4 linked regions of the Homo sapiens genome follow. The protein of the gene in region 4 interacts with the protein of the main gene of each other region in a pairwise test. Each region holds a gene or a part of one and is shown on either strand. Other genes may lie near its edges.

What was found.
Region 1: the proteins of HDX (region 4) and TSGA10 interact in binary tests that used the Homo sapiens proteins (3 or more experiments, as listed by UniProt).
Region 2: the proteins of HDX (region 4) and CTNNA3 interact in binary tests that used the Homo sapiens proteins (3 or more experiments, as listed by UniProt).
Region 3: the proteins of HDX (region 4) and TTC5 interact in binary tests that used the Homo sapiens proteins (3 or more experiments, as listed by UniProt).

The regions. Positions count from the first base shown.
Region 1 is NC_000002.12:99,151,936-99,159,908, forward strand, and holds the start of TSGA10 (testis-specific gene 10 protein), read right to left. Parts: upstream 3,008-7,973; 5' UTR 2,758-3,007; exon of another isoform or gene 2,389-2,757; coding exon of another isoform or gene 2,356-2,388; intron 1-2,355. UniProt on the Homo sapiens protein: Plays a role in spermatogenesis. When overexpressed, prevents nuclear localization of HIF1A.
Region 2 is NC_000010.11:65,915,157-65,922,195, forward strand, and holds part of CTNNA3 (catenin alpha-3), read right to left. Parts: intron 5,462-7,039; coding exon 5,174-5,461; 3' UTR 1-5,173. UniProt on the Homo sapiens protein: May be involved in formation of stretch-resistant cell-cell adhesion complexes.
Region 3 is NC_000014.9:20,285,711-20,288,974, forward strand, and holds the end of TTC5 (tetratricopeptide repeat protein 5), read right to left. Parts: 3' UTR 517-3,264; downstream 1-516. UniProt on the Homo sapiens protein: Cofactor involved in the regulation of various cellular mechanisms such as actin regulation, autophagy, chromatin regulation and DNA repair.
Region 4 is NC_000023.11:84,492,445-84,499,483, forward strand, and holds part of HDX (highly divergent homeobox), read right to left. Parts: intron 1-7,039.

The sequences.
Region 1 (7,973 bases), on a different chromosome or scaffold from region 4:
TTATTAATCAGAAAAATACTAAACAAATGTGTTTGTAGGGAATATTGAGAGTGAAAAACAATTGTTGAATGGGACATAAGCCAAAAAGACAATGCTTTTTATTATTTACAGAACGTAATTCTTTAGAAGAGAAAAAAAATACATAAATCATTCATTTGTTCACCTAGCCTGGCACTGTGCTTGGTGCTGGAGATACAGTAGTGAATAAAATAGCCAGTGCCTTGTAGAGTTTTGTGCCTGTCTACTAGGAAAGACAGGAGATTATACAGTAATTATATAAGATGCAAATTGTGATATGCCATGAAGAAACGTATAGCATTCAGAGGGACATAACACAACACAAGACATACCACATAAAACTGATTTTTTTTAAGATGGTCTCACTCTGTTGCCCAGGCTGGAGTGCAGTGGAGCGATCATAGCTCAGTGCAGTGTCGAATTCCTGTTCTTAAGCGATCTTCCTGCCTCAGCCTCCTAGTAGCTAGGATTACAGGCATGTGCCACCATACCCAGCATGTTTTTGTATTTTTTTAGAGACAGAGTCTTACAATGTTACCCAGACTGGTCTCAAACTCCTGGCCTCAGGTGATCCTCCCACTGGGCCATAAACTTGATTTTAACGTGGGAAATGGGAAAGCGTATCTCAGGACATTTTTGAAAGCAAGTTGATTAAGAAAGTAAAGAAACAGAATGGCTACTCCATAGAGCAGCCTCTGAGGACATTTATAGCTTTTGCAGTGACATGGTTGTCTAAGTGAATGATGGTGATGGTCATAAAAGTGGAGAGAAGGGGATAGAGTCCAGGTGAAGTCTGACAGGATGTAGTCATGGTTTGGAAGCGGAAAGTGAGGAAGAAGAAAGGGCTTCTGGCAAAAAAGGCTTTAGCCTTTATGCATGCAGGATCCCTGGGGGGAAAGAGTGAGTTCAGGAGCATGGCTTTTAGACTTACCAGGTTTACAAGGCAGTTGTATCTATGGAACTAAAAAATATAAATTTTGAAGTTGTATACAGAAATGGTACTTAGAGCCATAGAATGAATGAAATTGCTTAAGGAAAATGTAGTGTGAGATAAAGATCTGAGGAACTCCAACATTTAGGGCTGACTAGATCAGGGTAGCTGGCAAAGGGGACTGCGGAGTTGGCAGTGAGGCTGGAGGAAAACCTGGCAAAAGGGACTGAGGAGTTGACAGGGTAATGTCAAAGTTGTCCACAGGAATCTCCAGGTTGAGGTAGTCAAATGAACACTTAGATGAATACTGAAAAGTCCAGTGGATCTAGCAATATGAATGTCACCCGTGACCTTAGCAAAAGCACTTTTGCTGGAATAATGGGGAAAAGCCATTTTGGAGTACGTTGAAACAATGAATGGGAAGTGAGAAAGTAGATACTGGATGTATAGCAGTTTTTCCAAGAAGCTTGGCTCAGAAGGGTAGCAGACAGGATGACAAGTGGAAAGAGAAATGAGGTCACTGGAGGATTGTTAAAGAGTACAGCATGTTTGAGTGTCACTTGAAAGGTTCCAGTGGAGAAGCTGAAGAAGTAGGTAAAGGTAAGAATAACCAAGGGACAGAAGTCCTGGAGCAGGGAGGAGGGAATGGGATTCTTTAAAACCTCTTCATCAAGAAACTAGGAAAAAAAACCAAAGTTGTACCATCTCAGATTTCAGAGAAAGGGAATTTAGAAGGAAGTAATATAAGCAAAGAGCAACAATATTCTGTGACTGTTTTTAATAATAACTAGGAAAATTCCTAGTGCAGTTAACTCTGAACAAAATTCATTCCCACCTGCATAATACAAGATAGACTTACTCAGAGTGACCTTGGTAAAAGGTGTGATAATAAAGAAAGGAGGTGTCATTATGTCTTCATTGTAGCTTTATATGAAGCCCTGGTCATTTACCGTATCAGCATCAGCAAACTGAACACTGAATGATTCTTACTCCAAGAGGCAAGTCTTAGTGGTTTCTATTTTAACTGAAGGAGAGATTAATTTCTGTGCAAGGTTGAAAAAGGTGACCACAAATTCTTTGGGCTTCTTTCATCAAGAGGTGAAGTCCATTACCCCACGCCTTAACTCTGGGCTGGCTTTGTTGTTGTTTTGGCCAATAGAATATGGCTGAGGCGCTGCTTCCAAGATTAGGCCTGAATTGAGATGCCCTAGCAGCCAGGCAGCACCTGCCAGAGCATGAATAAGGCTATCTTGGACCGCCCAGCGTAGCCAACCTGTGCTGAATGAAGCCACATGAATATGCCCAGGAGAAACTAGCAGAAGAATCACCCACCTTGCCCACGTTAGAGATATAAACCACTATTTGAGGCAGTTTGTTATGCAGCAAAACTTAGCCGAAACTATTACCTTGCTACCTTGACTGCTGGTGTAATTTCCCATCTCATGGAGTCACAGAGTTTTCTTGCCAACTGCAGTGAGTTGGCAAATGGGAATGATCAGTAGCCTCAGTGTGTTTTCTGATCCACTCCATCCTGTATTATCATCTGCGAATACCGTTTTTCCTTTAAATGCAATGTGTCTTTCAAAGCTGACTTGAATTTCTCACCTTTCGAGTTACCTGCCATTTGGACTCACTTATTTGGAGGAGATATGTAAAGACCCAGCGTAATACCTGTATGCTCAATAAAAAGTATTTGCTGGTACTCCTTCCTGCCCGTCGTGTGACCTGACTGCTCTGGGCTTCTGGGGGCTCCCCCTAAACTCGCTCCACGAAATGACCCCTCCAACCTGGCACGCCCGCTCTCCTACCTTCGCCCAGGGCTGGCCGTTATCTCTGTGCTGTCACGCGGGGAAGTCCCATCTGAACTGGGGCCTTATGACCTTCGGTACTTTTATTCGAACGTAGCCTGCGTCCCTGCCTGGAACCTGGTTCCCGCCCTGAAGGACCCTTACTTAGCACTCCTGCGGGCTGCCGGGACCCCACGGCTCCGCAGGCGGAGAGACTAGGCGCGATCCCTGCGCGCCCCTCCTTCTCTTGCGCTTCAGGGGGCCGGCCCTCAGGGGGCGGGGCAGCATCGCGCGCAAGGCCTGCCGGTTGCTCGGGGTCGTATGACGCACTTTTCCAGCTCGAGCCCTCACGAGGCCGTGGGTACGACCGGAAGCCGCAGGTGGGTGAAGCGGAAACGCTTCAAACCGGGATGTTGCGGGCCGTAGCGCGTGGGCGGCCGTGGGGTCTTGGGCGCGCGCGGTGTTTCTGGCGGTGGGTCAGGACTTGCGGGTCGCCTCCGCCGGTGTTGAAGCCTCTTGTGTGCACACTTTCTCCTCAGCACTTGGGACGACCTAATTTCACTGTTAGGAACGGTTGATCCCGAACACAGGAGGGAGGGTAAATATCGTAAAACATGTTGGACGCTAGCTGTGTGCACGCCCCCTGGGAGCCAAAAGGGCGAAGTAAAACATGCACACGACCGTAATGAGATTCTGAGTAAGTTGTATATCATTAGAGAGGGGACAAAATAATAGGGTCTTGGCGAGGTCTTATGAAGAAGCTGCGCCTGCCTAGAAAGATAGATGGGATTGTGCTGTTTTCGCTTTCAGTTCAGTGATGGGGAGCCGTGTTTGGCAGTGCAGAGGTAGCGAAGTGTCCCAAGAACATGGAAGGTAAGGAAGTCTTCCGAGGAAAAACTTCAAAAAATTAGTCATTAAAGGGTGAGAGTAGAAAGATTCAAAGTGATTTTGAAGGAACAAAATTTAACCAGAACTTCAAAGGCTTGACACTATCCCAACGACTGTGAAATATCCTGAAATACCGTGCATTACTCAGTCGGGGTCTGATCCGCTACTGGAGCATAGAATAAAAAAAGAGGGGCACACCTGTGCCAGATGAATCCACGCCTTCTCTAGGGGAGAGAGGGTATCCCGGCTTAAGAGCAGGGGCTCTCCTGAGTTAAGGAAGTGTCTTCCCCAGAGCCCATTCCGTCAGACGTTCATATCATGTAACTCAGTCCTTTTCTGATTATGTATTCACCAAGCAAACTTAAGAGTTGGCTTGTCACCAGACCTACAGTGAATAATTGCACAGGCTCATCTGAATATCTGATAGATGGTCTATAGTTCTCTTTGTAAATCAATAAGCTGGCAGTCAGGGATTTTTGGACATCCCTTTGTTTTCACTTTTTCTCACTCTGTGTGATTTTTTCTTATCTTTCGGGGTTCAACTGAAATGTCACATCCTCACTGAGGTCTGTTTATTGGTTTACGTGTTCAGGTGCTTAGAACAGCTTCTTGCATCTTTTCTCACATGATGCCTTTTTAATGAGGCTTAGCCTAACAACCCTATTTAAAATTGCAATGTAAGTTTTCTCACATACACAGTTACAATCCTCCCTTTATCAGCTCTACATTTTTTTTTAATAGACTGAATCTCGCTCTGTTGCCCAGCCCATCTCGGCCCACTGAAACCTCCACCTCCCGGGTTCAAGCGATTCTCCTGCCTCAGCCTCCCGAGTAGCTGAGATTACAGGCGCCTGCCACCACGCCCAGGTAATTTTTGTATTTTTGGTAGAGACGGGGTTTCACCATGTTGGCCAGGCTGGTCTCAAACTCCTGACCTCAGGTGATCTGTCCACCTTGGCCTCCCAAAGTGCTGGGATTACAGGTGTGAACCACCTCGCCCGGCCATCTACTTTTTTTAATAGCCCTCCTTATCACCTTTATTCATTTGACTCACTGATGATTCCCAAGTGCTAAGAACAATGTCTGTCATGTAATTGATGAAAACTTTGTTGAATTAATACCTTTGTTGTGTTTTATTCACACTGTATATACAATACCTGGATGAAGAGAGATATTTTTAGCACTATTAAAATACATGCATTGGCTCAATACATGAATTGGATCAATTCTGGAACCCTAACAAGATCACATTTTTGACCAAAGTCAATATCTTGGACTATAGTTAATTTATCAAGGTAAATGCCACTTTGATGTGTCTTGGTTAGGAATCTTTGTTCACTTGAGGGAATACATGGTATATGATAGGAACAGTAAGCACAGAATAGAGATGGGAAAGGGAGAACCCTGTCATAACAGTTAACATTTCATATTTGCCAAACATGAATGGCTTATGCATATTAACACATTTAATTCTCTCAACCATTTTATGACGTCTGAGGCCACTGAAGCAGCTAGAGGTTAAACCACTTCCCTAAAGTCATTAGTAAGTGGCAGAGCCAGGATTAAAAATTTAAGTCCTTAACTACTTTGCCATCCTGCCACACTCTGCACATGCAGACAAGAGTAAGAGCCTTAATCTTGGGAAAAGATATTTCACAAGATCTTTGACAATTTCCATATCCACAGACACCATCCAGCTTATTAGTGACCACCACTCCTATTTGTTACTTTCTCCTTTAAGGCTGCCCCTACCTGAACTCTGGATCCCAGTACCATCACTTTCTCAAGGACCTCCCTTCTCCAGTGTTGCCCTCTCTTGACTCCCCTACCAGCATCTAAACATGCTCAGATCTATTGCATCTTAAGTCCTCTCCTAACTCCACATTCCTTTCTACCTACTGCCCTAGCTTTTCCACTTCACAACTAGAATACCCTCATTGTATCCACCTTGGGCCTCCTATTTACTCAGTACATCTGGTTCTTACCAAGATCACTGATAACCTTCTTGATACTGTTTAATAGATCCTTTTCAACCCTCATCTTATTTGCTCAATCTTTGGCATTTGGCACTGTTGACCATCTTGTCTCCTTGAAGCTTCCATAATAGCATATTTAAAATTTTTCTGCCTTTTCTTCTATCCTCAGCTTCCTTTGGGAGCTCTCCCTCCTTCTTCTGTATGTCCGTTAAATGTTGCTGCTCTTCAGTCTTATGTCGCAGGCCCTTAAATCTTCTCACTGAACCACCTTCCTGTGGCCTCAGTTACCATCCATTGAGCTCTGTGCCGTTGGCCGCTAGTTCAACAGTCAAAATGAACCAATTATCTTAACCCCATACTTCCTCTTCCTATAAAATCTGTCCTAGGAAATTTCACCTCTTTGCCAGGCCAGAAATCAGGGCATAATATTAATAAAATAGTTAGCACATATTGTGTACTTTCTTCAGTGCCAGGCACTCTTCTAACCACTTTATATGTATTAGCTCATCAGACTCAGCCTGATAATATGAGATGAGTCCTGTCATTATCCACATATTAGATAACAAATCTGAGACATAGAAAAGTAATCTGCCTTAGGTCATTCAACTGATAAAGGATAGAGTTGGGATTTGAATGAGGGCACTCTGGTTTGAGCTTGTAATCATTATATCATAAAGGACATGATGCTTGACTTCTCTTTCTCTCACCCTAATTCAACCTATTGCCAAGTATTGTACATTCTCCATGCTTAAAATCTCTAGGCGGTGTCCCTGAAGTATAAATCCAAAGCCTTCATGCCTGTAATCCGAGTGCTTTAGGAGGCCAAGGCAGGAGGACTGCTTGAGCCCAGGAGTTTGAGACCAGCCTGGACAACAAAGTGAGATTCATCTCTACAAAAAAAAAAAAAAAAAAAAAATAGCCAGGCGTGGTGGCACATGCTGGCTAAAGGGGGAGGATTGCTTGAGCCCAGGAGGTCGGGGCTGCAGTGAGCCGTGATCACACCACTGCACTCCATCCTGGGCAATAAAGTTCAAGCATTTCACTTGGATTTAAGGTTCTTTATAATCTAACATCTACTTCTCTTGCCTTCTTATTAACTCCCCATTCTTGTATTCCTAATAACCAGCCAGTAGAATTAAATTATTTGCATGGGTCCTATCTCCTTTTCCACTAAGCTGTTGCACATTGTTAGAATTCTTTTCTTTATCCCTTTTATGTCTCAGCTTCAATGTCACATCCACTAATTAGAGCATTAGATGGCGCTCTACTGTACTTAACACCTATCACAGCATTTAGGACACTGTATTTTAATTATTGCCTTACTTGTTTTTTAGTATCTCCCACTAGATTGTGGAGGTACTTGTTTCTTGAAGGCAAGGACAGGTTCACCTTCTTTTCTTTTTTTTTCTTTTAGACGGAGTCTTGCTCTGTCGCCCAGGCTGGAGTGTAGTGGCACGATCTCGGCTCACTGCAAGCTCCGCCTCCCGGGTTCACACCACTCTTCTGCCTCAGCCTCCAGAGCTGCTGGGACTACAGGCGCCCGCCACCATGCCCGGCTAATTTTTTGTATTTTTAGTAGAGACGGGGTTTCACTGTGTTAGCCAGGATGGTCTCAATCTCCTGACCTCGTGATCCGCCTGCCTCGGCCTCCCAGAGCTGCTGGTACTACAGGCACCTGCCACCATGCCCGGCTAATTTTTTGTATTTTTAGTAGAGACGGGGTTTCACTGTGTTAGCCAGGATGGTCTCGATCTCCTGACCTCGTGATCCGCCTGCCTCGGCCTCCCAGAGTCCTGGGATTACAGGCATGAGCCACTGCGCCCGGCCAGTTCACCTTCTTAATGTCACTCATATCCATCCCCTTCTCTCTCTCTCTCTCTCCTACCGTACTTTAGGCCCTCATTATCTCTAGCATGGACAACTGCCTTAGTCCATTAACTGTTCCCCCTGTCCCTAGTCCATCCTTTATTTAATCCATACTCAACCCTGCAGAGGCAGATTCGTATAACAGCTGAGTTAACACTTCCTGCTTAACACTTCAGTGGATCTTAGCTGCCTTTTAAAAAGTCCAAATATTTTGGTTCATTACATGAATTTATCTCCTCCCATTTTCTATCTCCTTATTACCTTGTACCTAGTAGGAACTCCATAAATACTTGTTGAATGAATATGGTACTGTGTCAAAGTCAGTCAAGCAGAACCAAGAACAAAGAGGTTAACCAAAGTAATGCAGTCTCGGTTGCGAGGCTTCCTAGGACAGTATAGCCATAGGCTTAAGTGGAAGTCGAAGACTAGTAGTGTAACTCTTTCTCTTAGGAGGGAATCCCCAAACATACCTTACTATTAGATGACTCTTTGTCTTTGCATATGCCT
Region 2 (7,039 bases), on a different chromosome or scaffold from region 4:
ATGGTAACCCAGATTGGCTCTAATATTGGGAAGAATTTCACCTACCATCAGTCAGGAGAATGGCTGAATTTCTGTTTCTCAACTTGCAAACAATATTACTAAATCATGCTCAAAATATGTGTAGTTCATCCTTTTGCCTTCGACACGACTTCACCAAACCACCAAGACAAGTGTCTCATTCTATCCTTAATACTTTCCTCAGGAGGGCTGCCTAATCTTCATAAAACCAAAAAACTCTCCCCTCATCTATGAAAGCTAAATGCTTCTGCAACTACCCCTCTCAGACCCTTCCCTACCTCTGGCACCTTCTTATTTGTTGTGCCTTTAGACTACTCCGTATCGTCTCCATTTTTCTCCAACTTACCAAACTCATATTGAATATCAATCCATGTGTTTTGTTCCCACAAACCAGTGGGGACTGCTAGATGCCATAATGCAGCCAGCAGCCATAAAGCATCTCGTCTCAGAATAAAACTTATGGTCGGCCCCACAGCCCATCTCTTGCCTGCGGATGGGATTCTGGTCAGGTTGAGTTCCATTTGGAGACAGCTCTCTCAATTAACATTACTTTCTTTTAGAGTGTCCAGAAATGGATTCTATCTTGTCTGTTAGGGGGAAAATATTCACATGCAAGAAGACTAGTGTTTTAAACTATTCTTTATTTTGCTTTAATAGAATATATGTTTTTGTTCATATGAATTGGTTAAAAATGCCAAAAAGGTATTTAAAATTTTACTTCTTCTCTTTCTCTTTGAGATGACTAAGATAGCGTTAGTAGCCTCATTCAAAACATTTTTAACTACAACTAGTTTTAATAGCATCCATGTTTTCTTTCCTAATTAAAACCAAAATGCCAAAATAAAAACTCTCAAACTGCTATTGTTATTAGTCCTGGCTTATTTGTTTAGTGGTAAAATGGAAAATACTAATGCTGAACATATCATAATGGTATGGGAAAAGAGTCATAAAGAAAAAAATGGAATTTTCATATAAATAAAAACAGTAACATCTCAGGTGGCAGAAATTTTCCTACTTTACTTAAAAAGAATTATTAAAATAATATAAAATTATATTCTTTTTAACTGAAATATTTCTGGCTTTACAAACAGAAAAAATGAATATTTGATTCCTAAATATACAATAGGCAGGCTGTCTTGGCAAAAAATAGGCCAACAAAAGAAAGTACAGATTTCATTCAAATTCAGATTCTGGTGCCTGCTTTGCCAACCTAAAGAACTACTTACAATGAAAGTGAAAGAGGCTGTTTATTCTGCAATGAGTTCACAAGAGAATGGTGGATATCACCAGGAAAAGTCTCAGATCTTATTCCACTCATACTACCACTATACAAAAATCTGTAGCCATGGGAACCACAATCTCTAGGACAGAAATGAACATTTGATACCAAAATTTAAGAATGTTTTGGGGAATAGAAAGACTAAAGGAATAATGTTGCTGGAAATTAAAATTCATAATTTTGACTAAAACTCTGTAAAATTTATTAGTCAATTTATACCTGGGATAGAGATGAGAGACAGGAGAGAGATATTTTTGGTTCACAGAAGAGGAAAGGGCATTAATTGGAGTAATTTGCTGTGATGGGCAGTCCTGATTGCACTATTTTGGTAGGAAATTGTTAGCAATTAACAGAGGATACCTAGCCCAGAGGTGGGTGAGATGAGAACACCCTCAAAATGAAGGTTCAGGAAGCCGTTGAAGTCACTTACTCTGTTGTTACACATTAGGCTTTTCAGCCACTCATTATTTAATTTGAGGAGCATTAATTATTTGGTCTGAAGGCCCAAGTTGCGCACTTAATTGTATATTCACAATTTTAGCTTGAAATTGAAACCGACTGCCTTTGAAGCTAAAGGTGTTAAGAATGCCAGACTGCAAGAATGGGTGTCTCTGTGTAGCTATGGAGGACCTTATTCCCTGTACATAAGAGATTTTTATGGGGAACAAATATGTTATATTGATCTTATGTTAAAAGATTTCAAAGGCCAGAAGGCACACTTGTGAATGTGAAGGCTATATTGTCTTTTCTAATACATTTGCAATTTGCACTCATATAATAAATAATAAACAGAAAGGAATAATGAACAAATTAGCTTAGAAATTTAGTGTTTGAGTTTTTTCTTGACTCATTCAAGAACTATCCAGAAACTGACTTAGAAACATTTTACTTCAATAATTTTAATTTGTCATAAATTAAAGGGAATGATTTCTATTTCTCACTTTTTATATTTGATAGAAATCTTCAAATTTCTCTAATTAGAAGGCCATTTAGTGGATTATTATTTCGTTTTTTTTTAAATTTTCATTCTAATTCCAGTCTAACATCTGGCAGGGATACTGGTGGGTAACCAGGGATGGAACTGCTCCTGTGGGTGGTAAACACCCCTCTCCTCCCTCTCAAGGAACGTTTTTCCCTATGTAAATTAACACAAATTGATTTCGTTAAAAAGAAAGGTGAGTTCTTATTAGCAGGATCAAGCAAATGTATTATCAGAGGAAGCACTAATCTCTGTGATGAGACATCAAAAGGTACATAGGTGGATCACCAAATTATCACTCTCATTAAGAAATTTCTGGCAATCCTCTGCAGAAGAAATACCTAAATATAAATGTGTCATGCTGATTAGTTTTTAACATAATGGGGAGATTTATTCATATCTTGCTGCTAGTTTTTCTTGCATATAAGCATTTGTTTTATCAGCAGGTTTGAATCAAACTAAATCTTGAAATGCTGCCTACTACAGGAATTCACTCAGGTGGACAGATGCCTTTTTCAGCTCTATGCATCTTGTTTTTATGTCACTATCGATTACCACAGCAGATTAACTCCTAGGATATTCATTGAGTTAAAATTTTTATTGTTTTATTTAATTATAGTTTGCTTTGAGCTAAGCTGAAAATCTGCCTGGGTTAAAGAGGAGAACTTGTTCACATCTCACTTTGGGTAAAAAGTCATTTTTATCAAAGAGATGGAGGTTATTTGGTAATTGTATAATTTCAAGTTATTTCTGTTCTTTTGGTGTCCAATACTGCATGTTCTAAACTCCAACATGTGGAAAGATGATGTTGGGTCCGGTGGACATTAGATTTTCTAAATGAGATGCTTATGATTCTTGTGAATGTGGCTTTAGGAGCTAAGATACACAACTGCTAGTTTGGTGATTTCAAAAAAATTTTCTATACAGCTGGTAGTTTGGTGATTAAAAGAAAATTCCTCTCCCCACTAAATTATAAATTTATACTTCTATCTGGAAGAAGGATATACCACAGATGTCACTCGTGCAACATCTACACTTAGAGCAGAAAATGATGGCAGCATTTCAATAAAAGAAAATCTCTATTTGCCTCAATCATCTAGATAATTCTGAAAAACAGAGTCATCTGAATTCCCTAATTCCCTTCTTCACTGCCTTTTCTTCTGGGCAGTGCATTCTGTTCAGAATAGTTATTGTAGGCCAGTCTATGGTGCAAAACAGGGAGGAGTTTATTGCCTTCACCTCCTAGGAAGTTTTACACTGAGCTCAGGCAATCCAGCTACTTGGAAGATTGAAATAATTCATTACAAGAAATTTAACATTTCCTGCATAATTAATAATGACCTATTAAATAGATCCTTCTTTTCCCATACCATTATGCTTAAGATTCCACACATATCGTACTGTCAATCTTTATGCTTTTCTATGTTTCATGCATCCTTTTACCCAAACTGGTTCTCCTAATATCAACTGGTATTGTATGTGTAAATTTTTTTCTCATCAATCTAAGGTTACATCGTTGCTGAGACGCCTCTCATCAATGGCAATGTTTTAGAAGTAAAAAGGTACAATATAATACTATTATGATAATGTAGAATAGAAAATGTTTTTTAAAGTCTGTGAATCAGAACTCTATGAATGAGAAAAAATGAAAACAAAACTTATGGCCTCCAAAGAGTTTCTGTTAAGGACATTTTTGAAAGACAGAGAGAGGCAGGTCATCAGGGGAGAGAAAAAGAGAGAGAGAATGACAGAGAGAGGTACACTAGACTCTAAGACTATTATGAAGTCCATTATGAACTCAACTAGGAATGAACACAGTGACTGGAGTTGTAAAATGACCCCAGTGACTTTTATTTAAAAGAACGTTATTAAAATCACTCCAGCTTCATTGCCATTAACTGCTTCATAGTTCAATGGTACAGTTCATGCAGTTATATTTTACTCAACGTCAAAAGATTTTTCAAACTGCCATTTTCCTTTTAATTACAATTGCAAGCTGATAAAAATGTATTTTTATGTTTGTAAAAATAGGGTCATACAGAACTTACACTTCTGTTATTATTAATATAACTCACTTTGGGATATAGTTTGTTGTCTCATTTTCCCAATGGGTGATAACTCTTCTTTCACATATGTATTCGGATAGGCCTAACACTCAAAAGTACAGAACTCTCTAACACATTGGAAACCCAAAAGGTGAGTATGTGGCATCAGAACTCATTGTAACCTTTATAATGTTAAGAAAGCATTTTATTAATAAACAAGGTTGACCTTCAAAATCCAGCAAGTAGCCTAACTATTCAAATTTGATTAGTTTATAATGGATATTAGCCTAATAAGTTGACAATGAGTACAGCTATCTAGAGATTAAAAGGTGGTTTTTTTGCTATGGCAGGAATCATACATTTCTGCCTGGTTAGGTGCCAGGTTAGATCAGATAAAGAAAGCATGGAGATTAAATGGGAAAATATTTTATAAAAGTCTTTTGTTTCTATTAAAAAACCAAGTTAGGAGCTCATGTTAGTGTTTTAATTCAAGATAAGGATGATAAGTGTACATGAAGTATTACAGATAAACAGGACTCTCTGGCCTCTCCTGTGTTTATTTGGTAACGAATAGTAGATAATCTCTATGATGGGAAACGCTGAATGACACGTGATAATTTCATTCATTCAACAAGCAAATATTCCTTAACTATTAGGTGCTGACCATACAGAAATGACAGTGATATGATCCCAAATATATATTGCTTTTGTTGATTTAGCGCCCAATATTTTATGTTATTTGTGAGTTAAACACCAAAACTTAGTGAAATTACAGAACTTCTTAAGTGTAAAATAAAGCAGTGTGGTTAGGCAGGATTTTGTCATATAGGCACTATATGTAGAATAGTGGTTTCAGTAGATTTGTCTTCCTCTAAATTCACTCATGACTTGCAATGGATGGATTTTTTTCTTTGCTGAGCCTCGTCTGACAGCTGCACACGTTTCCTCTGGCTTCTCTCTTTTAATCAAGGGTTTTTTTGCAGGAGCCTTCATTCTCCACATCACAACTGGGTGCCGGGGCCCAGCAGGACTCTGGATTCGGATGATCTTGGTTGAGGCAATGTAAGACATTTTCACTGTTTGCACTACAGCATTCATTAAATTTTTGGCTGCTTGGATCAGGGATGTGACACTGTCCAACTGTAGGGAAAAAAGAGAAAAAAGAGCTATTATTCCAGGAGGTTTTGTTAATTATTGCCAAGCGTGGGCATGGTGGCATGTGCCCGTTGCCCCAGCTACTCAGGAGGCTGAGGAGGGAGGATCACTTGAGCCCAGGAGGCAAAGGTTGCAGTGAGCCAAGATGGCGTCACTGCACCGCAGCCTGGGTGACAGTGAAACCCCATATAAAAAAATAAATAAATAATAAAAATAAAAATAACTGAGCCTGATAGTCTATTAATGTCACAATAAGCTGCTCAATATTGTCTATGCCCAAACATAAATCAATAAGTTCTGCCTCATTTTTTTGTATCTAGATGGATAAGTGATTATGTTCAATTAACTCTTATGCTAATTATGTAATGTGTTTTGCAAATAACCCTAATACGCCAATTTAAATAGAATCCTGTTAAATATTATCCTGTATAAATCTTACTTTTATTATAGTGTCTCTTCTGTGCTTTGTGGTATTATATGGTTTCAGTTTAACAACGGTACAAATTGGACCAATTCTACAAATGTTTACGGATAAAGGACTTGCTCTTAAAAACATATCAATAGCCATTTACTACAAAAAGGTGGAGTTTAGCAACAATAAAATACATTTTCTGTTTCCTCATAAAATGTTAACATTTCGTCCATGTAAGTAGTTTGTATAGAATACCTGGATCTTTTCTCAAAAACACTAAATACCTATAAATCCTTGACAACTATGTCAATTTGGAATGTCTGCTAGCAAACCCTTGCCAAAACCCTATTGTAATTAGTGATAGCTAAGAGGAATATTCAAAAAGACATGGTACATATTCCTTCTCTTGCTTTTGGAAGTTTCTCACAGAGATTGTGTCAAAACACTAGAATGCTTTCTACTCGTAGGACACTAGTCTAACTCCCTATAGTTTGGATTCAAGACTGTTACCAGACATACGCCTTACATGAGGATTCTAAGCCTACGTGAACCTCACTTCCACTGGTGTGGATCTCACTTTCTTGCACCTGGTCTGTCACCTGGGAAAGCAGCTTCCCAATCACAGGGCAGTGTGAACTGCCATGCCAACTGCTTCTTCTGAGACTCCTGCTGAGAGAAAAACCTGATGCTGCTTGGAAAGATATATGGTCTGTCCAGTAACCTTTTTGGTAAATTGGTACCAAATGTAGCCTATGATCTTGAGTCTCAAGGTGTACCTGAATTCAAAGACCCCTGTTGGATGTTGGTCCTGCACAAAAGCAATTTTTGAAAGACAAATGTCAAGAGTTTGGTTCCAAGTGTCAGAAGAGCTTAAAATAATTGCTAATATCTATTATATGCTGTAGTATGCAGTTGACATAAAGTAACTCATAGCAACCCTATGAGGTAAGTACTCTTATTATCTTCATTTTATGGATGAAGAAACAAAGGAACTGGAAGGTCTGGTGACTTGCTCAAAGTAACACAGATATTAGATAGTAGGGCTGGAACTGGAACCAAGTAAGTCTGGTTCTACCTTGCGTTTTTTCTCATTACATAAACCTGCCTCCAAGAATATCCTACTTCCAATATGTGATTATTTTTCGATATCA
Region 3 (3,264 bases), on a different chromosome or scaffold from region 4:
GCTATAAAGACACATGCACACGTATGTTTATTGCAGCACTGTTCGCAATAGCAAAGACTTGGAACCAACCCAAATGTCCAACAATGATAGACTGGATTAAGAAAATGTGGCACATATACACCATGGAATACTATGCAGCCATAAAAATGATGAGTTCATGTCCTTTGTAGGGACATGGATGAAGCTGGAAACCATCATTCTCAGCAAACTATCGCAAGGACAAAAAAACCAAACACCACATTTTCTCACTCATAGGTGGGAATTGAACAATGAGAACGCATGGACACAGGAAGGGGAATACCACACTCGGGGAACTGTTGTGGGGTGGGGGGAGGGGGGAGGGATAGCATTAGGAGATATACCTAATGCTAAATGATGAGTTAATGGGTGCAGCACACCAACATGGCACATGTATACATATGTAACAAACCTGCACGTTGTGCACATGTACCCTAAAACTTAAAGTATAATAATAATAAAAAAAAGAGAGAGCATTAAGAAAATGAAAAAGCAAGCTGCGATTTGGATAAATATATTTGAAAAACATAATTTATAATGGATTAGTATCCAGAACATGTAAGGAATCAATAAGAAGACAACCCAATAAAAATTGGACAAAAGAAAACAGAGATTTCATAGAAAAAGAAACAGGAATGGACAAAGAAATGTAATTTATGCCTACTATGTGATATTTTATAATCATCTGGTTGGTAAAAATTAAAAAGCTAGACAATTTCAAAAAAAGAAAAAGACAGACTGGGCTTTAAAGATCAGTAGGGAAAGGATTGATTCTTTAATAAAAGGTGCTGGGCTATTTACTCATTATGAAAAAAATTATATCCGTACATAACATAAAATAAAGTCATACTGTAAGAAAAGGACAAAATAACTTCATAAAGCAGTAGAGGGAAAATGTCCTTATGACTTTAGGAGAGCTAAGAACCTCTTAAAACACAAAAAGCATTATCATAAAAGATGGATAAATTCAATGACATTGAAATTAAGAACTTCTGTTCAGCAAAAGACCCAATAGAATAAAAAAAAAAACAGGATAAAACTGTATGTAGACAAACGATTAGTACAGGGAATATATAAATCAATTTGACATCCAATACAGCAGTGTGCAAAGACTCGAATAGGCATTTTACCGAGAGAAAATATTAGTGGCTTCTAAATATATGAAAAGATGCTCAAGCTCATTAATAATCAGAAATGCAAATTAAGGCCACAAGGAAATAATACTCAAATCTCCTGTATTTGCAATACCTAAAAGATAATACCAAGCACAGAAGAGGATGGGGAGCATTGGGGTGACTCATCTATTGATAGTAGAGACATAAACTAATATAAGCACTTTGGAAATGTTTAGTGCTTCTCAAAAAAGTTGAACATGTATATACTCTATGATCCAGCAATTCCATTCTATGTCAATACTCTTAAACAGTGGTTCTCAAATTTTACTGTGCATCAGAGTCACCTGGAGGGTTTGCGAAACACAGATTGCTGGGCTCCTCCCACATAGTTTTGAATTCAGTAAGTCTGGGTAGGGGGCTTGAGAATTTGCATTTCAAAGAAGTTCCAAGGGATGCTGATGCTGCTGGTCTGGGAACCACTCTTCAAGAGCCATTGCTGTAAAAGAAACTTTTGCACTTACATATCAGGACATATACAAGAATATTAATAATGTAGTGCTTTGGTAGTAAAAAAAGAAAAACTGGAAACCCAAATATCCTTTAACAACAGGATGAATAAATTATGGTATAATCATACAATGAGATTTATATAGCTGTGAAGACAAATGAGATCATGGAGAGGTATGCAAGGGCTTCCAAGTTATCAATGATGTTCTAGTTTTTAAGGCAGGTGGATATTTTATGGGTATTCTAGTTATTCCTGAAACCGTATGTACAAATTTTGCATACTTACTTGTTTGTACGCACTGCTTCTCTGTGGCTACCACCTACTGGCCATTTTTCTACTCTCTAGCCCTACACAGAACATGTCAACTCATCTCAGAATTTGAGTAAAAGGGGAACAGTATTTGGGTCCCACATCTCTACTGCCTCAAATGTTTACACATACTACTACCCCCATCTTCCCTAGTTGCTTTCAGCCAATTCTCAAGTTATTTTTATACCCCACAAGCTCCTAATCACTCTTCTATGACTCTAGGCCTCAAAATGACACCCAAAACTAATTTAAGACTCCATATGTGGTATAACAGACAGTACTTCTAATAAAAACTGTCTCTTGCTACCATAGGTTTTTTTGGTGCAGTCCATGAAGAGTGTTCTTGCAAACTATATCAGACTGGTTACTCATACTGACTTTAGCTTATCTACTAAGATTCTTAGTAATATTCATATATGATGTTGAAGCTATACCTGAGAATGTAAGCCTTTTTGGACCAAAAGAATGGACTGAAAATTTTATCTTATTAGACTCAGCCTTTATGACTTCTTAGATAGAGACAGATAGATAGATAGATAGATAGACAGATAGATAGATAAAACTTCTCTCATCAATGCATTTCTACCATCCATTCTCTGAGGAGGCCTCTGCACTCTTTATAAATTTAATGAGTCATCAATGATATTCAAGGCACTGATCAAAAACTGAACAGGACTGGACCAAGAACAAAGATCTGAGCCATTTCACTAGAAGACTTCTCAATTCATCTGTATACATTAATGTATTACAGCCATTCAGTTGTTGTTGCTGTTTGAGACGGAGTCTCGCTCTGTCGCCCATGCTGGAGTGCAGTGGCATGATATCGGCTCACTGCAACCTCCACTTCCCAGGTTCAAGCAATTCTCTGCCTCAGCCTCCCCAGTAGCTGTGATTACAGGTGCCTGCCACCACGCCCAGCTAATTTTTGTATTTTTAGTAGAGACGGAGTTTCACCATCTTGGCCAGGCTGATCTTGAACTCCTGACCTCGTGATCCACCCGCCTTGGACTCCCAAAGTGGTGGGATTACAGGCTGAGCCACCGTGCCAGGCCAATTCAATTGGTTATTAATCCTCACTCACATTTCTCCATTTTACCACAAGGATATTAAGATAAACTGTTATAAAACATGTCACTAGACTCTAAAGAAACTGAGGATTTATCTAACTCTCTCTGGTCCTTCAGCCTAGTAACACTATTAGAACAGTATTGCTCTGTCATCTTGGACCATAGTGAAGACCACCCCTAGGGAATGACAGAATGGGAAAATGGAAGAAAGCTGGTCTCTAGCAACTTTGTGGAGTTGCCATTCCTG
Region 4 (7,039 bases):
AAGCTTCATTACTTGCTAGTCTTGTGACTTTAGCAGAGATAATTGACCTCTGGAACCTCAGTTCCTTCATCTGGAAAATGGGACTATAAAACCTGTCCTATTCTTCTTCAAATGATGTGTCATCTTCATTAAAATACTTAATAAACTGTAATGTGCTACGCCAAGCCTATTTTTGTTACTAGTTAACATATCATCAACTGGCCATCAGTACTGCGAATAACTCTTTTAAAGTACATCAATCCACTCCTACACAATTTATATATGAACCTCAAATGAAGGATATGTACATTATGATATTATGATGGCAAAAAAAAGACTGATCCTGAGATCCCTGTCTATGCAATAAGAGTTTAATCTTTCAAAATGTTTAAGAATGTGAAAGTTAAGCCCAACAAATAGCATCGTGTCCACATATGCATGGAAGCCACTCCAGAATTTTTTAGTACAAATTTAATATTACAAAAAGCTTTTTTTTTTTTTTTTCTGAGATGGAGCTTCGCTCTTGTTGCCCAGGCTGAAGTGCAATGGCGCGATTTCGGCTCACTGCAGCCTCCACCTCCTGGATTCAAGCAATTCTCCTGCCTCAGCCTCCGAGTAGCTAAGATTACAGGCACTGGCCACCATGCCCGGCTAATTTTTGTATTTTAGTAGAGATGGGGATTCACCTCTCTATTTACTTTATTTTAAAATCATCTCACCAAGTTTTTAGATATTGTAAAAAATAAATTCCAGCATCTTCAAAGCATAAAGTCTAGTGACAGACATCTGTTTATTCTAATACTATGAGAGTATATTATCTGTTTATTAAGCTAGAATTTACTGAAATGTATTGTACACATCTCTTATCTGTCTTTTTAGAGATAAAACTAACTTATATTGCTTAGGTGAAAATAGAAACAAAAGGAGATTTTAATAAAAACTTATCATATGATTTTCTCAGGGCACAAAGAAATTGTTCACTGACCTCGCTTTAAAACACACTTAAAATTATGTAATTAATATTCAGTTTTGCCAGCTACATAAAACATATTCATAGTGACATGAACACAAATTGCAAGAAAATTTTATGTACACATACTCCACATAAATATATGAAAATATAAAGGGACATATATGTCTATAGCTACATCCCTAATGACTAAATTCTAAAGAAAGCTTCTACCAAATAAATGCATTAGCAAGTAAATATACTGGATCTCAGAATGTTTAATCAATGATAAAAATGTATTAGCCTTTAATGACACTTGCTTTATTCACATGGTAATGTGTTCAAATAATATACACCTAAAACTATAAATACCTAATCATACCATCAGATATCAGAAAGAATAAGTACCTAGTATTTGATAGCACAACAGGGTGACTATAGTCAAAATAATTTAATTATATATTTTAAAATAACTAAAAAAGTATAACTGAATTGTTTGTAACACAAAGGATAAACGCTTAAGGGAATGGATAGCCCATTTTCCATGATGTGATTATTATGCACTGCATGCTTATATCAAAATATCTCATGTACCCCATAAATGTGTACACCTACTATGTACCCACAAAATTTAAGAATAAAAAAATTAAAAATACTAAAAAAAAGTAAAAAGATCAATTTCAAATGGATAAACAGCTGAATGACAAAAACATAAATAGGGACTCAACTGAATGACTATTTCCTTTGGCTCTGTTTTTATGTAATCCCACATGCATCCATCCATACAAAATATATGACAGTGATATATGGCACTAATGACCAGTGATATACAGCGTCTCCGAATGAGCTAAGTAGTACCTTGATTCATTCATATTCGTTGAGTAAATTTTGTTTCAATAAATTGTGTTTCTTTGTACATTTCTAGCCCTAAAAAATGTGCAGGTAAATCACTTCTATGTTTCACTGGAGAGTGTTTGTACTGCCACAACCATTGAAAGCTAACATTTCACAATCTTGCAAATCACAGTCTTGTTAATACTTTTAAAATGTAGGTTGTATTTTAACTTACTAATGAGGGAAGTACATACACAAAGAGATAGACTATTTAATTATCTTACAACTCTCATTCCTGATTTTACATCAACCTGCACAAATTAAGGGGAAAAAGATTTAGTCACACATTAGAGGTTAGGGGGATATCCCTCAAAGTACACCATCAAGTGGTAAGTAGGTAACATTATATAAACATACACATATATAGTGTAGAAACAACATACAAACACACATGTATTTAGACAATGAAAATGTGAAAGCATAAATTTATCCCCATTGAGAAAAGGAAACTCTTGTACAACTTTGGTGGGGATTTAAATTAGTACAGTCATTATGGAAAACAGTATAGAGGTCTCTAAAAAATTAAAAATAGAACTCCTACCACATATGATTCAGCAATCCCACTTCTCAATATATAGCCAAAGGAAATAAAATCAGTATCTTGAAGATATATCTGCACTCCCATGTTCACTCACTGCAGTATTATTCACAATAGCCAAGATACGGAGTCAACCTAAGTGTCTATCAACAGATGAATGGATAAAGAAAATGTGGCATATATACAAAATGGAATACCATTCAGCATTGACAAAGAAAAAATAATCTTGTAATTTGCAACTACATAGGGGAACCTCGAGGACTTTATATTAAGTGAAATAAGCCAGGCACAGAAAGACAAATACTGCGCGATCTCACATATGTGGAATCTAAAAAAAAAAAAAGTCAAATTCATAGAAGCAGAGAGTAGAATGGTAGTTATCAAGGCTGGAGAACAGTGAGGGATTGGGTAGATGTTGATCAAGGAATACAAAATTTTAGTTAGACAGGAAGAATAAGTTCAAGAGATCTATTGTATAACATGGTGACTACAGTTAATAACAATGTATTGGATGCTTGAAAATTGCTAAGAGAGTGGATTTTACATGTTTTCACCACAAAATAAGTATGTGAGGTAACTGATTTGTTATTAGCTTGATTTAGCTGTTCCACAATGTGTACATATATCCAATCACCATGTTACACACTATAAACATATATATTTTTGCCAATCAAATAATGAAGGATTATCCCCACAAATACTTTAAAGAGTAAGAAAATGCATAATGTAATCATGCTCCAGACTTCTTGTCAAAAAAATAAAAATAAAGAAATTGCATAATGACTTAAAAGTCTCATAGAGTAGAACCCCAAATCTGATAGCCACAGGTAAAACTCCTCCTTTATTCTTCAAATGAAAAAAATAAAACAAAAACAAAAGATACTTAAGGCAGAATATCTCAAACAGAGATCCAAAGATAGATTTTGTCAGTGTAGGAAAAATTTTGCTTTTGTTTTTGGGGGTAGCCTCTAAAAGTTGGAAAAGCCAAGGAAACAAAACCTTCTCTAGAGGTGCCAAAAAGGAAAGTACTGCTGACATATTTATTTTAACCCAAAAAGACCCATTCAGACTTGTGCCTTCTGGAACCATAAGATAATAAATTTGGGTTGTTCTAGGGCAATAATTTTGTGGTGATATATTATGGCAGCAAAGAGACAACATACCATTCCCCTTGAGGATGTTGGTGACAGTGAACCCAATACAACTATATTCTTCTGTAACACTCTGTTGAAAAGTCAAGTAATTAGGATAAATATCATTTCAATGGTAAAGCCATTGCTGTCACCAATGTGAGTGGATATACTCAGAGGCTTAGCGATTTTACCTATGACATTGGTGTAGTTTTTTTCTCTTAATGATACAATGCATACTTCAGAATGGAACAAAGCTGATCTGTATTTGTCATACAATGTATAATGGAGAATGCTTAGATCGCATATTTCTTTACAAATGCGAAAACAGACAAAAGAAAATTCAAGTTTTTGTTTCTATGACCACCAGCTCTTAAAAGTCTCTGTTGTACAGGAAGTAAGATTTCACTTTACTTCAGTTCTTCTCAGACATTAATATACATATTAGTAAGTAACTGGGAGGTCTTGTTAAAATGCGGATTCTGATTCAGTATATCTAGTGTGGGGCCAGGAGATTTTGCAGTTTCTAAGCATCTCCCAGGTGGTGTTCATGCTACCACTCTATGGAACACACTTTGAATAGCAAGGGAGGGATTCAACAATCCCTACCTGAGGCTCCATATCACAAACAATACTGAATTCAAAATGTTTCTCTCTGCATTCAGTATTACTAGTTGAGAGAAGAAAAATAATCTCAAACTGACTTCCAGCATCTTTTAACCATTTATTAGTGATGGAAGTGAGCCTAAATAAAGTGTCTGACTCATTACTTTATTAACTAACATAGATATTCAAAAATAAATTCATGTGGCTATACTTTTGTCTTAGAATAATGAGGAGTCAGGACTGAGCATTCTAATACCTAATGTAATATTTCCCACTATTACAGAATATATTTCTTCTTCCACATTTTACAATGCCTGGATCTCTTCCAATTGTTGCTTTGTTGAGAGGTGATATGGTTTGACTCTGTGTCCCCACCCAAGTCTTATCTGGAATTGTAATCCCCACATGTGGAGGGAGTAACCTGATGGAAAATGACTGGATCATGGGGGCGGTTTCCCCCATGCTGTTCTCATGATCATGAGTGAAATGGTGTAAAAGTGTTTGGCAGTTCCCACCTCGCTCTTACTCTCTCCTGCTGCCATGTAAGACGTGCCTTGCATTTCTTTCAACTTCCACAATGATTGTAAATTTCCTGAGGCCTCCCCAGCCATGTGGAACTGTGAGTCAGTTAAATATCTTTTCTTTATAAATTACCTAGTCTCGAGAAGTTCTTTATAGCAGTGTGGAAACAAATTAGTACAAGGGGATTTCAACACAACAAATTTTCGGTCTATGAAAGGGCAAAGCTATTTTGAAAATGCATCTCAGATAATTACTTTCTTAAATGGCACAGCTATTCCATCCATAAAACATACAATAGGTACATTAAGCTAGCCAAATAAGAAAATATTGAATCATTAAATTAGTGTATTAGAAAAGTTATATAATAATATAATCTATGTTTTAATAAAATCCACTCATGAAGTGCTTTCAACATTGGTTGGTTTGACAGTAAGAAAGAATATGGGTTTATGTGCCTTCTGCCAGTGAAGCCATTGGAGGTCAGCACAATGAGCCCTTTCCCCTTAACTTCAGCCTTTATTTATGTAAAAAATGTCATCTCCACTAAGGAAAAAAAAAGGAAAATATTACAGGTATTAGAGGTTCAGAAGGAGAAAAGAAACTAGGGGAAAATATACATGTTATATGACTGTGTGTGTGTGTGTGTGTGTGTATGAATTTACATATACGTGTGTGTGTGTGTGTGTGTATACACATAAATTTTTTGAAAAACAATGAAGATAGGCCTCACTGTAGCTCCTTAACTTATACCTGGTAGCTTAACAGTTGAGCATACAGTGTCTAGAATAACACCTGCCCTCAAATCCTGGCTTTGCCACTTAGTAGTATATGACCTTGCATGAGCACCATACACTAATATTTGCCTAATAACAAAAGTGCTTAGGGGAGTATATAAGCCACATGTTTGCATGACTGTTTTTAGAAGCTTGAAAGAAACTGTCCCTAACTCCAAGGGAAAAGAAGCTAAGGAGATAGTTTGCTAAATTTTGCCACCCTGACAATAATAGCCTCAAAGATTCTAAGGATCAACCCAAATGCACATATGTCTAGTTGTTAAATAATAGGACACCTTTTGTGAAACAAAAGGTAAGACAGATATTGTTCTAGATTTCTTTACAGATGGAAGATGTAAGGTGAAGCATTTAATTGACTAACAGTATAATTTCATGTATCCAGTTGCCTTATACCTAGATCTCTGGTTTAATCCAGGCAATTTTGCCACTAGTTGGCACAAGAATGACCTCATTTGGACAGACAGGTTTCAACTTATTTCCTTAAAATTTTATGCAGAATGGAAAGGTATTAGGATATCAGTGATAGCTTCTGAATATGCCAGTGTCTCAAGCTCCCTTCTTATGCATAATATATCTCTAGAATTATCGATATTTGCTCCCAAACTAGTGTACCTAGATATAGTGTACTCAATACAAGTATATTAAGAAACCACCAATTTCAGTTTTAGCTCACTGACTCCACAATAAAATAAAAATCAACAATTCAAATTTTATTTATTCTGTTGGAGATTACACTATAAAAATATAATTCCCTCTGGAAGTATGATACAATTTTAAAAGCAGAAGGAAATAAATGTTTTTAAAATGTATTTTATGCAAATTTTCATGCTATATTTTTTCAATCAAGACTGAGAGAGTGTGTTTTAATAAAATATCTAAAACAAATGTAGGTATACACCATTTATTTGGGTAATCTTACAAATCTCTAACTTTGTAGAAGTAATATGGTGTTTATGGAATGTATGCACACACACACACACACACACACACACACACACACACACACACATCTCAGATTCCAGAGATTTAGATCCTAGCTAAAGCTCTGCCAAAAGTTCATTATATTGACCTTAGTCAAGCATAACTTGGTGATTAGAAGTCAAACCCGTGATTGGGTCTTGACTGTGACGTATAGTAGCTGTGTGGTCCTGGGAAAATCAACTGCTTTGAAATATGTTTTCTCATTTGTAAAATGGGAAATAATACTATACACTCTTTCATATAGATTTTGTGATGTTTAAATGTAATAAGATATATAAAGTTTTTAGCACAATGCCTGGCACTAAGTGCTTAATAAATATTAGTGTTTATTAATGCTAGTAAAGTACCTCACTTCTTTGGGCTTCAGATTCTTTACTTGTAAAATAAGGGGATTGGCTTATCACTATAAAATCTCTCCCAACTTAAACTCTACAACTTAAATGAGAAAACCCAATGTCATCCTCCCAGATAGAAATTGTAAAACAAGCCTTAAAAAACGCATGTCACACTCAGTTTTTTTCATATTTTATTTTGGGCTCTCTAAACTTAACAGCATATTTCTAAGCACCACATTCTATCCAGAGTTGCTTAAGTTTGATCAGTTTTCTCTATTGGTCTATGTGTAAATGTCTAGGAAAGTCTCAAT